Linked DNA regions of Homo sapiens. The protein of the gene in region 1 purifies or fractionates together with the protein of each later gene. This does not show direct contact. Each region holds a gene or a part of one and is shown on either strand. Other genes may lie near its edges. The genes, in order: HSF5, ARMC9 and SAMHD1.

The links.
Region 2: the proteins of HSF5 (region 1) and ARMC9 purify together in Homo sapiens (co-immunoprecipitation; one large-scale study listed by IntAct). This does not show direct contact.
Region 3: the proteins of HSF5 (region 1) and SAMHD1 purify together in Homo sapiens (affinity purification with mass spectrometry; one study listed by BioGRID and IntAct). This does not show direct contact.

What each region holds. Positions count from the first base shown.
Region 1 is NC_000017.11:58,485,498-58,489,939, forward strand, and holds the start of HSF5 (heat shock factor protein 5), read right to left. Parts: upstream 2,912-4,442; 5' UTR 2,778-2,911; coding exon 2,228-2,777; intron 1-2,227. UniProt on the Homo sapiens protein: DNA-binding transcription factor that is essential for male fertility, spermatogenesis and meiotic prophase progression in spermatocytes under non-stress conditions.
Region 2 is NC_000002.12:231,275,078-231,278,724, reverse strand, and holds part of ARMC9 (lisH domain-containing protein ARMC9), read right to left. Parts: intron 2,090-3,647; coding exon 1,950-2,089; intron 344-1,949; coding exon 267-343; intron 1-266. UniProt on the Homo sapiens protein: Involved in ciliogenesis. It is required for appropriate acetylation and polyglutamylation of ciliary microtubules, and regulation of cilium length. Acts as a positive regulator of hedgehog (Hh)signaling.
Region 3 is NC_000020.11:36,896,084-36,899,730, forward strand, and holds part of SAMHD1 (deoxynucleoside triphosphate triphosphohydrolase SAMHD1), read right to left. Parts: intron 2,462-3,647; coding exon 2,357-2,461; intron 1,877-2,356; coding exon 1,739-1,876; intron 1-1,738.

The DNA.
Region 1 (4,442 bases):
GCACTTCCAGAGGCCAAGGTGGGCAGATCACTTGAGCCCAGGAGTTCCAGACCAGCCTGGGCAACAGAGTGAAACCCTGTATCCACCAAAAATACAAAAAATTAGCTGGGTGTGGTGGCCACGCCTGTAGTCCCAGCTACTCGGGAGGCTGAGGTGGGAGGATCCCTTGAGCCCGGGAGGTGGAGGTTGCAGTGAGCCAAGATCTTGCCACTGCACTCCAGCCTGGGGGACAGAGTGAAACCCTATCTCAAAAAAAAAAAAAAAAAATCAAGTCTATAAAATAATTTGGCCATGTGAAGTGGCTCACACCTGTAATCCCAGCACATTGGGAGGCCAAGATGGGCGGATCACCTGAGGTCAGGAGTTCAAAACCAGCCTGGCCAACATGGTGAAACCCCATCTCTACTAACAATACAAAAATTAGCGAGGTGTGGTGGCAGGCACCTGTAAAATCCTAGCTACTCTGGAGGCTGAGGCAGAAGAATCACTTGAACCCGGGAGGCAGAGGTTGCAGTGAGCGGAGATCTTGCCATTGCACGCCAGCCTGGGCAACACAGTGAGACTTAATCTCAAAAAGTAAAATAGGCAGGGCGCAGTGGCTCAGGCCTGTAATCCCAGCACTTTGGGAGGCCAAGGCTGGCGGATCACCTGAGGTCAGGAGTTCGAGACCAGCCTGGCCAACCTGGTGAAACCTCGTCTCTACTAAAAAATATAAAAATTAGCCGGGCATGGTGGCACGCGCCTGTATTCCCAGCTACTCAGGAGGCTAAGGAATGAGAATTGCTTGAACCCGAGAGGCGGAGGTTGTGGTGAGCCGAGATCGCGCCATTGCACTCCAGCCTGGGTGACAAGAGCGAAACTCCGTCTCAAAAAAATAAACAAATAATAAAAAATAAATAATCCACTATCACAGAGGGTTTCTTAACTTTTACTAAATACAGATGTATACCAAAAAGTTTTTTCAATACTGAAAGATTGTAGCCAATAGTGAAAACTCCAAAGGCTGTAAATGTGAGCTTTCTAAAATTCTTTTTTAACTAAAACTTGACAGCTGTAAAGAAAACCATCTTTGCCTTATGTTTGTCTAATCATACCCCTTTAAGGAAGCATCAAGCTCTAATTTGCTTCAATGAAAGAAATGTGTAGCCAATTCATTCTACATAGGAACTATATCTTGTAAGCCACGATGTATCGTTGTATTTTTGCTCTTAAGGTATATAAACAACGTCTACCATTCTACACATTAACCAGAACCTTAAATCTGATGATTGTCGTAGCACTTCTAAGATTTCTTAGATGTGCCAATAGGTGGAAGGTGGCAGCCCTCTTCAAGGACAAATTTCCACTGCAGGCACCTTTTCCAAAACTTTCCCTTGCCTGCTATTGTAATGTTCTAAGTTCTCTCTTTTTTTTTTTTTTTTTTTTTTTGAGACCGAGTCTCGCTCTGTTGCTCAGACTGGAGTGCAGTGGCACTATCTCGGCTTACTGCAACCTCTGCCTCCTGGGTTCAAGCGATTCTCCTGCCTCAGTCTCCTAAGTAGCTGGGATTACAGGCGTGCACCACCATGCCTGGCTAATTTTTGTATTTTTAGTAGAGACGAGGTTTCACCCTGTTGGTTAGGCCGGTCTCAAACTCCTAACCTCGTGATGCACCCGCCTCGGCCTCCCAAAGTGCTGGGATTACAGGCGTGAGCCACCACGCCCAACCGTAATGTTCTAAATTCTCTTGACTACGATTTTGTTCCATCCCGCCTTAACCCGTAGGGTGACTCCACTCTGCTTCCCACGGGAGCAAAGGAGCCCCTTTTGTTTCTTCCAGACCCAATGTTTCAACGAAGGACTACTGAGTCCACATGTTTACAGTGGACAGTGTGGGTCTCAGGAAGGTAAACGGAGGCTTACAACCAGGTAAACTCCTGGGGTTCAAACCGGGGACGAGTAGAAGGGAGCCTAAGAGGCGGAGGTCCCTTTTGCTGCCAGTGGGCTCAGAAGGGGCCGAATGCTTACGGACCCTCCAGGGGAGGGCCGGTGGCCACCGTGCTGGTGCCGCTGAGAACGGCGGCGGTGGCGGGACCGCCAGTCTCGGGAAGCACAGCGGCCAATGGGTCCCCGGCGCCTTTCCGACGCCCATAGCGTGAGGACGTGCGAAAATGCGCCCTCCAGCGGCGGTTGCTCCCCGCCGCCCATGTGCCCACTGTGGGCGAGGGCACGGGCAGTCCGGACTCACCGTGCGGCTCGGGCCGGGGCCCCGCGGGCGGCGGCGGCTGCTGGTGCTGCAGTGGCGCGGTGGCGGCGGAGGCCGAGGTGATGAGCAGCCGCTGGAAGCGGTTGGGCGGGCGGCAGGGCACCTCCAGGCCGGCCGCCAGCTTGGCCTTGTTGGCGCTGGTGAGGCGCTTGAGGTGCACGAGCAGCTGTGGCTGGTCGCGGCGGAAGTGCGGGTTGTGGAAGTGATGGAGCGGCCCATTGCCTGCCGGTTTGCCGCCCCCCGGCCCGCCCAGCACCACCTTGCGGAAGCCGTAGAGGTTGAGCTGGCGGATGAAGCTGGTGAAGCTGGTGGTTTTGAAGAGCTCGGGCTCGGCCCCGGCCCCCGCAGTCCCGCCACCGCCCCCCGGCCCGGGCGGGCTGAGCAGCTCGGCCTCGAAGAGCGGCTGATCGATAAGCAGCCCCTCGCCGCGGCCGTCCCAGCGGATGGAGCGGTAGCGCGGGCTGTTCACCAGGCGCCACAGCTTGGCGGGGAAGTTGTTGGGGTTGATGGGGGTGGAGAGCAGCGCCTCCATCGCCCCGCCGGGCCGGGGCCTCGCCCCCCGAGCCTAGCTCTCCCACACCGTTCTCGATCCCTCCCCGGCCTTCGCCTCGCCCTGCCCGCTCCTGCCGGCGCCCATCCGCCGCGTACCAGGGACCGTTGGCGCACGAGGCCCCGCGGCGCCTCCCAGCGCGGCCAATGGGGCCTCGAGTTCCCGCCACGCGGCGTGGGCACCTCCCCCTCGGCGGCCGCGTGCCCCAGCTCGGCCCGCCGGACGCCTGCGGGACCCGGGCAGGAGCCCCTTCCCCAGGCGTTCCCAGACTTCAGGCCGGGAAGGCTGTCTGCCGGGGTGTTCTAAGTCCTGACAAGAGAGAAGCCCAGTTATCCACCGTGGAATACCAAGAGGCGTGTGTTTCGGCCCAGCCAACTAGTGGAGACTTGGAATGCAGAGAAAGTGTGCGTTAGGCAGCAGAGTTGGTCGTTCTGGGGACCAAAGGGTCTGGTCTGTAATCTTTGCTAACAGTGGAACTGCTTACCTCTCAAACAAAAATGATGCTACTGGAGGTATAATATCTTGAGTAAACGAACTCACCTTTTAGATAGTAGCCCTTTGTATCTTTTAAGATACACTCTTTTAAGTCAGTATTTGTTCAAGACAATTTACTCAAGGTTAGATGAAAACTGAGGTCCCTAGGAGGAGGGAATCACAAGAATCTAAGTACTATCTTGTGTGCCTGCCCAACTAGCTGGTGGCATTTTAGACATTAAAGAGAAATAAAGATGGGACAGAATTCTACGGTATCCATAAGAATCGATCCCTAGCCAATCAATAAATAAGAATGTAACAAGAGCTGTGCTGATTCAAAAAGAGAGGTTCATTTGAAAACGGAAATTGGCCGGGCGCAGTGGCTCATGTCTGTAATCCTAACACTTCGGGAGGCCGAGCTGGGTGGACTGCTTGAACCCAGGAGTTCGAGACCAGCCTGGCCAACATGGTCAAACCCTGTCTCTACTAAAAATACAAAAATTAGCCAGCGTGGTAGCATACCTGTAGTCCCAACTGTTCAGGAGGCTGAGGCAGGAGAATCGCTTGAACCCAGAAGGCGGAGGTTGCAGTGAGCCGAGATCGCACCACTGCACTCCAGCCTGGGGAACAGAGGGAGACTCCATCTCAAAATAAATAAATTGGAAATTGCTGGGAGAAAGGGGTACAATGTTCTACTCTTCTCATGGTCAAAGAATAAGTGAATATTAAGTTTTTTTAGAAATGAAAATAAAACGACCCAACAAAGCAGCACTAATATAGAGATTTTATTTAAACTGTATTGAATTTTTACAGCACATTGCATGTTTGTCACAACGCAACTGCACAGTTTGGATTTTTGGCCACATCATGTCACTTACACCCACAACAGCTCTGAAAGGAGTATTTGATGAACACATCTGAGCCAAGAGCCCAGAGTCTCTCTCCAAGGCCATGCAGTTTGTTCACTGATGGGACAGTCCCTCAAAACAGCCACGCTAAGTAGACAGATACAGTCTCCCCAAATGTTACCAATCTTACTCCCCTTGAAAACAGGCAGAGTGAAGTGCAATGAAAGACAAGTTAATTAAAAAGCCACTCACAACTGGCAGTAAATTTTAATGATTGATAAAATGCTTAAAATAATTTTATGTATCAGAAACAAGGAACAGCTTG
Region 2 (3,647 bases), on another chromosome or scaffold:
TGAGAAACAGCAATGCCGGAGGGGCCCGGCACAGGCCAGTGGGCCAAGCAGACAGGGACGGAAAGAACATCCTGCTTCTGACTTCCAAAATTCTAAAAATTATAAAAGATTTCCAGTTGCTTATGAAAATCCCAGAAGGACAGAGAACATGTACAGTTTTCAAATACAGCAACCATCCTGGGCCAGCTGTGTGCCTGTGGGGTCACAGGCATTGGGTCCCCAGTGTAGCCTCCCCGAGCCCAGGGCCAGCAGTGCTGAATGAGTACCTCATGGTTTTCATGGCCAAGAAGATCCGAAAGGACTTTGAGCACGAGGCCTGCCACCTTGGCACACATGTTCTTCCCTATGGGAAACAAATCAAAGCTAAACATGACATGTCTAAACCCAGAAGCACAATTTTAGGTCAGGTAGACTTGGAGACAAATCTTGGCTCCTCTGCTCATGAGCTGTATGACCTCGGGTGAGCTGTATGACCTCGGGTGAGTCATGTAACCAATCTGGGCCTCAGTTTCCTCTTCTTTACTACAGGGATTACTATTCATACCTACCTCAAAAGGTGATGCAAAATTAAGTAGACTAATGTATGTAAAGGACTCAGTGTAGCATAGAACCTCGGTGCTCAGTAAACCATCCCAAGTGGTGGCTATTACTCCGGTCAGAGCACAGAGCGAGTCATTACAGTGAAAGCACAATACATTATAGAGCAACGTTCTCCCTCCCACGCACGGACACCACCATCAGGAAGACCATATAGGCATTTTAGTAGTTATAAACATCATCATAAAAATCACTGCAAATATGGTGATGATGATGAAGAAAAGCTAATTCTAATCTGATAAACATATTAGAAGTTAGGACTTTTGGCTGGGTGCGGTGCTTTACGCCTGTAATCCCAGCACTTTGGGAGGGCGAAGTGGGTGGATCACTTGAAGTTAGGAGTTCAAGATCAGCCTTGCCAACATGGTAAAACCCCCTCCCTACTAAAAATACAAAAATTCGCCAGGTGTGGTGGTGGGCACCTGTAATCCCAGCTACTCGGGAGGCTGAGGCAGGAGAATCGCTTGAACCCGGGAGGCAGAGGTTGCACCACTGAGCCAAGATCATGCCACTGCCTCTAGCCTGGGCAATGGAGCGTGACTTCATCTCAAAAAAAAAAAAAAAAGGCTAGGACTTTTTGCATGCTATTTTTTTAAATGACTGAAATAACAGTCATTTACTCAGTCAACAACACACAGTTACATGGTTCAGTCTACAAAGTATATAGAGGGGAAGATGCTCCAACAAGTCCTCCTGAGCCAGCTGTTTACCCAGGGAGCCTTTCTCTCCTAACACTGGATGCTCAGGCTGGGGAAAGCCACAGCCTGGAGGTGGCACCTCTTCTAAAGAAGCTTCTTTCATCCCAGGTAACAATTTAAATGAGATAGTACCTGTACCTGGAAAAGCTCAAATCACTACCTTCAGCGATCAAGTATATAAATGACTGATCAAGTATATAAATGACTTGTGCCCACAGGAGAACCTCCACCTCCAGGGCTGGGGCAGGGAAAAGAGTGTGATTCAGGGCAGGAAGTGTGGTTTAGTGTCACTGCTACTGCGGCCAGCTTAATCCTATAGTATCTTGGGAACACACTTCTTTGTCTTCAGAAAAGGGGATCATATTCTTAATTTCCTACCTCTGAATAATGCAATAAAGAAAAAGGTAAATGAACTTAGTCTCCTCTTAATGCAGGCACTACATATATACAAGACATTTTTTCCAGGGCAAGAATGGATTTTGCCTTCAGGGATTCAACAGCTTGATACCTAGTTGGAAATGCTTTCTACTCCTTTTTCTGTTTTTAGTTTTCTATGAGACTAAAAGCAAACCATATCAGGCTCACTAGAAACCCAGCTTCAAGAGTCAAGATCTCTTCCCCTTCTTGCACTAGAATGAGGGTCGGGGCTGAGACCTGTGCTGCGGAGGCAGAGGTTCATGAGCAAAGCCACCGAGTACTCCAGCGTGTAGTCAGACAGGCAGTCAGGGTCCTTCAGAACATCAACCAGCCAGAAGATGAGGCCGTCTTGAATCATCGCTGTCTGCAGCGGGCGCCTGGGAAGAAAGAGCCTACGGTAAATACAAACTGCCAAGAAACTTTTCATATAAGAGGAAACAGTAGGCTGGAAGCAGTGGCTCATGCCTGTAATCCCAGCACTTTGGGAGGCCAAGGCGGACGGATCACCTGAGGTCAGGAGTTGGAGACAAGCCTGGCCAACATGGTGAAACCCCGTCTCTACTAAAAATACAAAAATTAGCCAGGCGTGGTGACGGCGCCTGTAATCCCAGCTACTTGGGAGGCTGAGGCACGAGAATTGCTTGAACCCGGGAGGCAGAGGTTGCAGTGAGCCGAGATCGTACCACTGCACTCCAGCCTGGGCGATGGAGCAAGACTCTGTCTCAAAAAAAAAAAAAAGAAGAAACAGTAATGTGAATGCATATCAGAAAAGACAAACTTACAGAAGACATAGACTCTGAGGAATATTTTTGTTAAACCCATACAATTGAAATAACAAAAATTCTTTACATTTCAGGGATATTTATTAAGGGTTTAAATAAAGATAAGGTGGTAAGGAGGCCTCCTACTTTGAAAGTTTCCTTTTCAATATTTAAAATTAGCAGAGCATTGCTTCAAATATCTAATAAATATTTATTTGTAGCTTTTGGTTTACTTAACCCAGGAAACAGGACCATAGAAATACTTCTTTGACAAATAGGTTTTTTGTTTTTTTTTCCTGAGACGGAGTTTTGCTCTTATTGCCCAGGCTGGAGTGCAATGGCACGATCTCGGCTCACCGCAACCTCCGCCTCCTGGGTTCAAGTGATTCTCTTGCCTCAGCCTCCCAAGTAGCTGGGATTACAGGCATGCGCCACCACACCCAGCTAATTTTGTATTTTTAGTAGAGCTAGGGTTTCTTCATGTTGGCCAGGCTGGTCTCGAACTCCCAACCTCAGCTGATCTGCCTGCCTCAACCTTCCAAAGTGCTGGGATTACAGGCGTGAGCCACCGTGCCCAGCTGACAAATAGATTTTTACCTAAACGCTCTATAATCCAGCTCTAGGCACTCTGAGCTGTATAAAAATAAAGAAAACAAGGAGGAGCAAAAGCCTAGCTTAACATCACTTTGATTCACATTTCTATAGAGTAAGGGTAGTTTAATGACCTGGTTAATGCAAATTATAAGGAATGATTTTCCACCCAAAGTCCAGGTGTAGAATCTTACAAAATCCAATACCCCATCAAAATGTGTGATGGTGAATGTCATCAGGTTAGCTTTAAGAATTGCTGAGACTAAGTGTGGTATCATTATGAGATGCCATCTGGATTAGTAGAAAACTGACATGCCACAGAGAAGCCAGCTCTGCACATCTCCGGATGCGCAGGTTATGGTGAAACCACCACTCAGGACAGAACAGCAGAACCAGTTATCCGTTCATCCTGTTCTTAAACACTACACTGACCCAATCAGGGTGGCTTATTAGAATACAGTGAAGACTGCGCTCTCTTGGTAACTAGCTACCTTCTTCATTTATTGCAGAGACTCTGGAAAACTGCAAAAAGGTTAAGCACATTTACAGAACAAAAAAGCTTAAATTAACACTTAGAGGAAAA
Region 3 (3,647 bases), on another chromosome or scaffold:
CTTTTTGAGACAGAGTCTCGCTCTGTCACCCAGGCTGGAGTGCAGTCGCCGGCTAATTTTTTGTATTTTTAGTAGAGACGGGGTTTCACAGTATTAGCCAGGATAGTCTTGATCTCCTGACCTCGTGATCCGCCCACCTCGGCCTCCCAAAAGTGCTGGGATTACAGGCATGAGCCACCGCGCCCAGCCTATCCATGGATTTTTCTATCTGTGGGGTCTGTGGGGGTCCTGGAACTAGTTCCCCACAGACACCAAGGGACAATTCTACTCTTATTCCCACGGGTGTCACTCTAGTTGGAGATGACACACATTCAGGTAGATCATACAGTGCATGGTAATTCTTGAATATGCTCAATGATTCCCTCCCCACTGTACAGAGAAAAAAATCTCTTAGCCAATTATCCAAGGTTCTCAATAATCTAGTCCACTCTTCCCATTTAACCTCTCCACACTTAACAGTAAGAACTTTCTGGCTGGGCATGGTGGCTCACACCTGTAATCCCAGCACTTTGGGGGGCCGAGGTGGGCGGATCACGAGGTCAGGAGATAGAGACCATCCTGGCCAACATAATGAAACCCCATCTCTACTAAAATACAAAAATTTAGCCAGGCATTGTGGCACATGCCTGTAATCCCAGCTACTCAGGAGGCTGAGGCAGGGGAATCGCTTGAACCTGGGAGGCAGAGGTTGCAGTGAGCCAAGATCGTGCCACTGCACTCTAACCTGGGTGACAAAGCAAGACTCCATCTCAAAAAAATGAATGAATTAATTAATTAAAAAAAAAAAGAATTTTCTACCCTGACAGGTCTCCTCATGGTCCCCTAAACAGTCTCAGCTCATTCCAGCTTCATGCCTTTGTGCTCCTCCCACTGCCAAATATACCCTGCATTCTCCCTGCTACTCATCCAAACACAACCCTGCCTTCTAGATCTAGCAGATCCTGCCCCTTCACCAGGCTTCTCCCAGAGATCTCCCAACTCTCTGAATCCTCAGAGATCTTACCTGGATCATGCCTTGTGGCACTTGATAAAGCACCGACATCCTGAGCTACGCTTTCATGTCTCACCCTATCCTTTGTTCCCTTTAGCACCTGACACACAGGGAGGTGTGAGGGAGAGTTCTAGACTAGGCAGTAAAGCACTGTTGCCCTGCATGCCAATCATATTCATTCATTCATTCATTCAATAAATGCCAACTGGCCACATTCTCTGTGCAGACACCTACCATGTGTAGGTCAGTAAGAGACAATTTTAACAACCTTCTCTACAGGGTTGGCAACTGTGGCTTGGCTCCTCTTCCCTCTACTCACATTCTAGATAATTTAAATAGCTAACTAATATACTGAAGTAACGAGGTTTAGAAACATGAAGTCTATTATCAATTTTATGTTAAACAAGTTAACTACTCAGCTTTGGTAACCTCTGAAAGATGGAGACACTATGAATAACCTTCCAGGGCCACTGGTGAACAACATTAGAAAGCATTATTTACATGTTCACATTTTTATTATTAGGACAATAATGCTAAACAGTATCCATTCCCAACTCCTGTAGGAAGAAATCACTGGCTGACACAGATTCAGACATTTTAAAAGGAAAGAAAGTGAAAGACCTTATTTTCAAAACCATAACCAAATGACTATAACTTAAATGGGAACTTTTCAGCAGATAGACTTACTTTTGGTTTTTACTTAAAAATAAAAAATTGTGCAAAGTTTGTGAGTAACAGGCCACCTACCTGCGGCTTGGTGAAATTTCTGTCTGCACACCACTGAACAAAATATTGTCTTGCGGCATACAAACTCTTTCTGTCCACCTTCTTACAATATACTCGAATCAGCTGCTCTGCAAATTTCTCTGGCAGAAGTTGTGAAACCTTTTTAAAATGAAGAGATTTCACTATCACCTTGAAGTCACACATTGGAGATATCAGCTGGTCCCTAGGCTCCTAACTATTCCTTTTTTTTTGAGACAAGATCTCCCTGTCACCCAGGCTGGAGTGCAGTGGCACAATCACAGCTCACTGAAGCCTTGACCTCCCAGGCACAAGTGATCCTCCCACCTCAGCCTCCTAAGTAGTTGGAACTACAGGCATGAGCTACCATGCCTAAGTTTTTTATTTTTTGTAGAGATGGGGTCTCGCTTTGTTGGCCAGGCTGATCTTAAGCTCTTCGTCTCAAGTGATCGTCCTGCTTCAGCCTCCCAAAACACTGGGATTACAGGTATGAGCTACTGTGCCAGGCCCACTTTAATTGTAAAGATATGCCTTAAAACCTAATTTGCATATAAAATGCTAATTTACTATAAAGATTTGCTACATGCCACTATAGTATATTTGTTTTGCCTAAGTAGTTACCTGGTTTTTAGTAATCCTGATTGCTCTGTTGGGGGCAGTCTTACAATAGAAGCTAACATGATCAATTGGATTCTTTTCTTGCATTCCATAATCCATGTTGATAACCTAAATAAAAGCAATTCACAAGTAATCATATAGCAAGCAGGAGAACTGAACTCAGGGCTGTAGGAGCATAACAAGAAATGGAACAGAGGCCGGGCGCAGTAGCTCATGCCTATAATCCCAGCACTTTGGGAGGCCAAGGTGGGTGAATCACGAGGTCAGGAGTTCGAGACCAGCCTGGCCAACATAGTGAAACCCCACCTCTACTAAAAGTACAAAAATTAGCTGGGCGTGGTGGCATGCGCCTGTAACCCCAGTTACTCGGGAGACTGAGGCAGGAGAATTGTTTGAACCTGGGAGATGGAGGTTGCAGTGAGCCGAGATCGCACCACTGCACTCCAGCCTGGCGACAGAGTGAGACTCTGACTCAAAAAAAAAAAAAAAAAAAAAGAAAGAAAGAAATGGAACAGAGCCTTCTGGGGATTTGGAAATAAGAATGTTGATGTGACTCATGGTGGAATAAAAATAACTGGTTCGTGACCACTCTTAGGGATTTGGTATTGAAATCTGGGAAGAATGGGAAATGCACTTGTGTGTTTGATCTAAGTGTGGTGTAAACTCAATCCCTGCTATGTGACAGACACAGATAGACACTAGAGGTACAACAAGGACACTTTAAAATAAAATCCCAGGCCGGACACAGTGGCTCACTTGAGACCAGGAGTTCGAGACCACCCTGGTCAACATGGTGAAACCCTGTCTCTACCAAAAATACTAAAAAAAAAAAAAAAAAAAAATTAGCCAGACGTGGTGTTGTGCACCTGTGGTTCAAGCTACTCGGGAGGCTGAGGCACAAGAATTGGTTGAACCTGGCAGGCGGAGGTTGCAGTGAGTTGAGATTGCGCCACTGCACTCCAGCCTAGGCAACAGAGCAAGACTCTGCCTCCAAAAATAAATAAGTAAAGAAAATCCTAGCCCCCACAAACCAGGCAGCCCTAGATTGAAATTCAACAAATAATTATAAAAGTATTCAACCACAGTTGAAAAGCAAAGGGTGCTTTGAAATGTTCTAACAGGTTACCTGATGTAGCCTAGGGTGCCCGGAGAATGACCGGAAACATTTTCCTGGGAAAGTGACTTTACTAAGTGAGCAAGAAACAAACAGGCTTAGGTGGGAAGAAAAAGAATTGCAGGCAGAGGAAACAGCTCAGAGGCAGAGAGGACTGAAACTGTCTCCTGGATTTAGCAA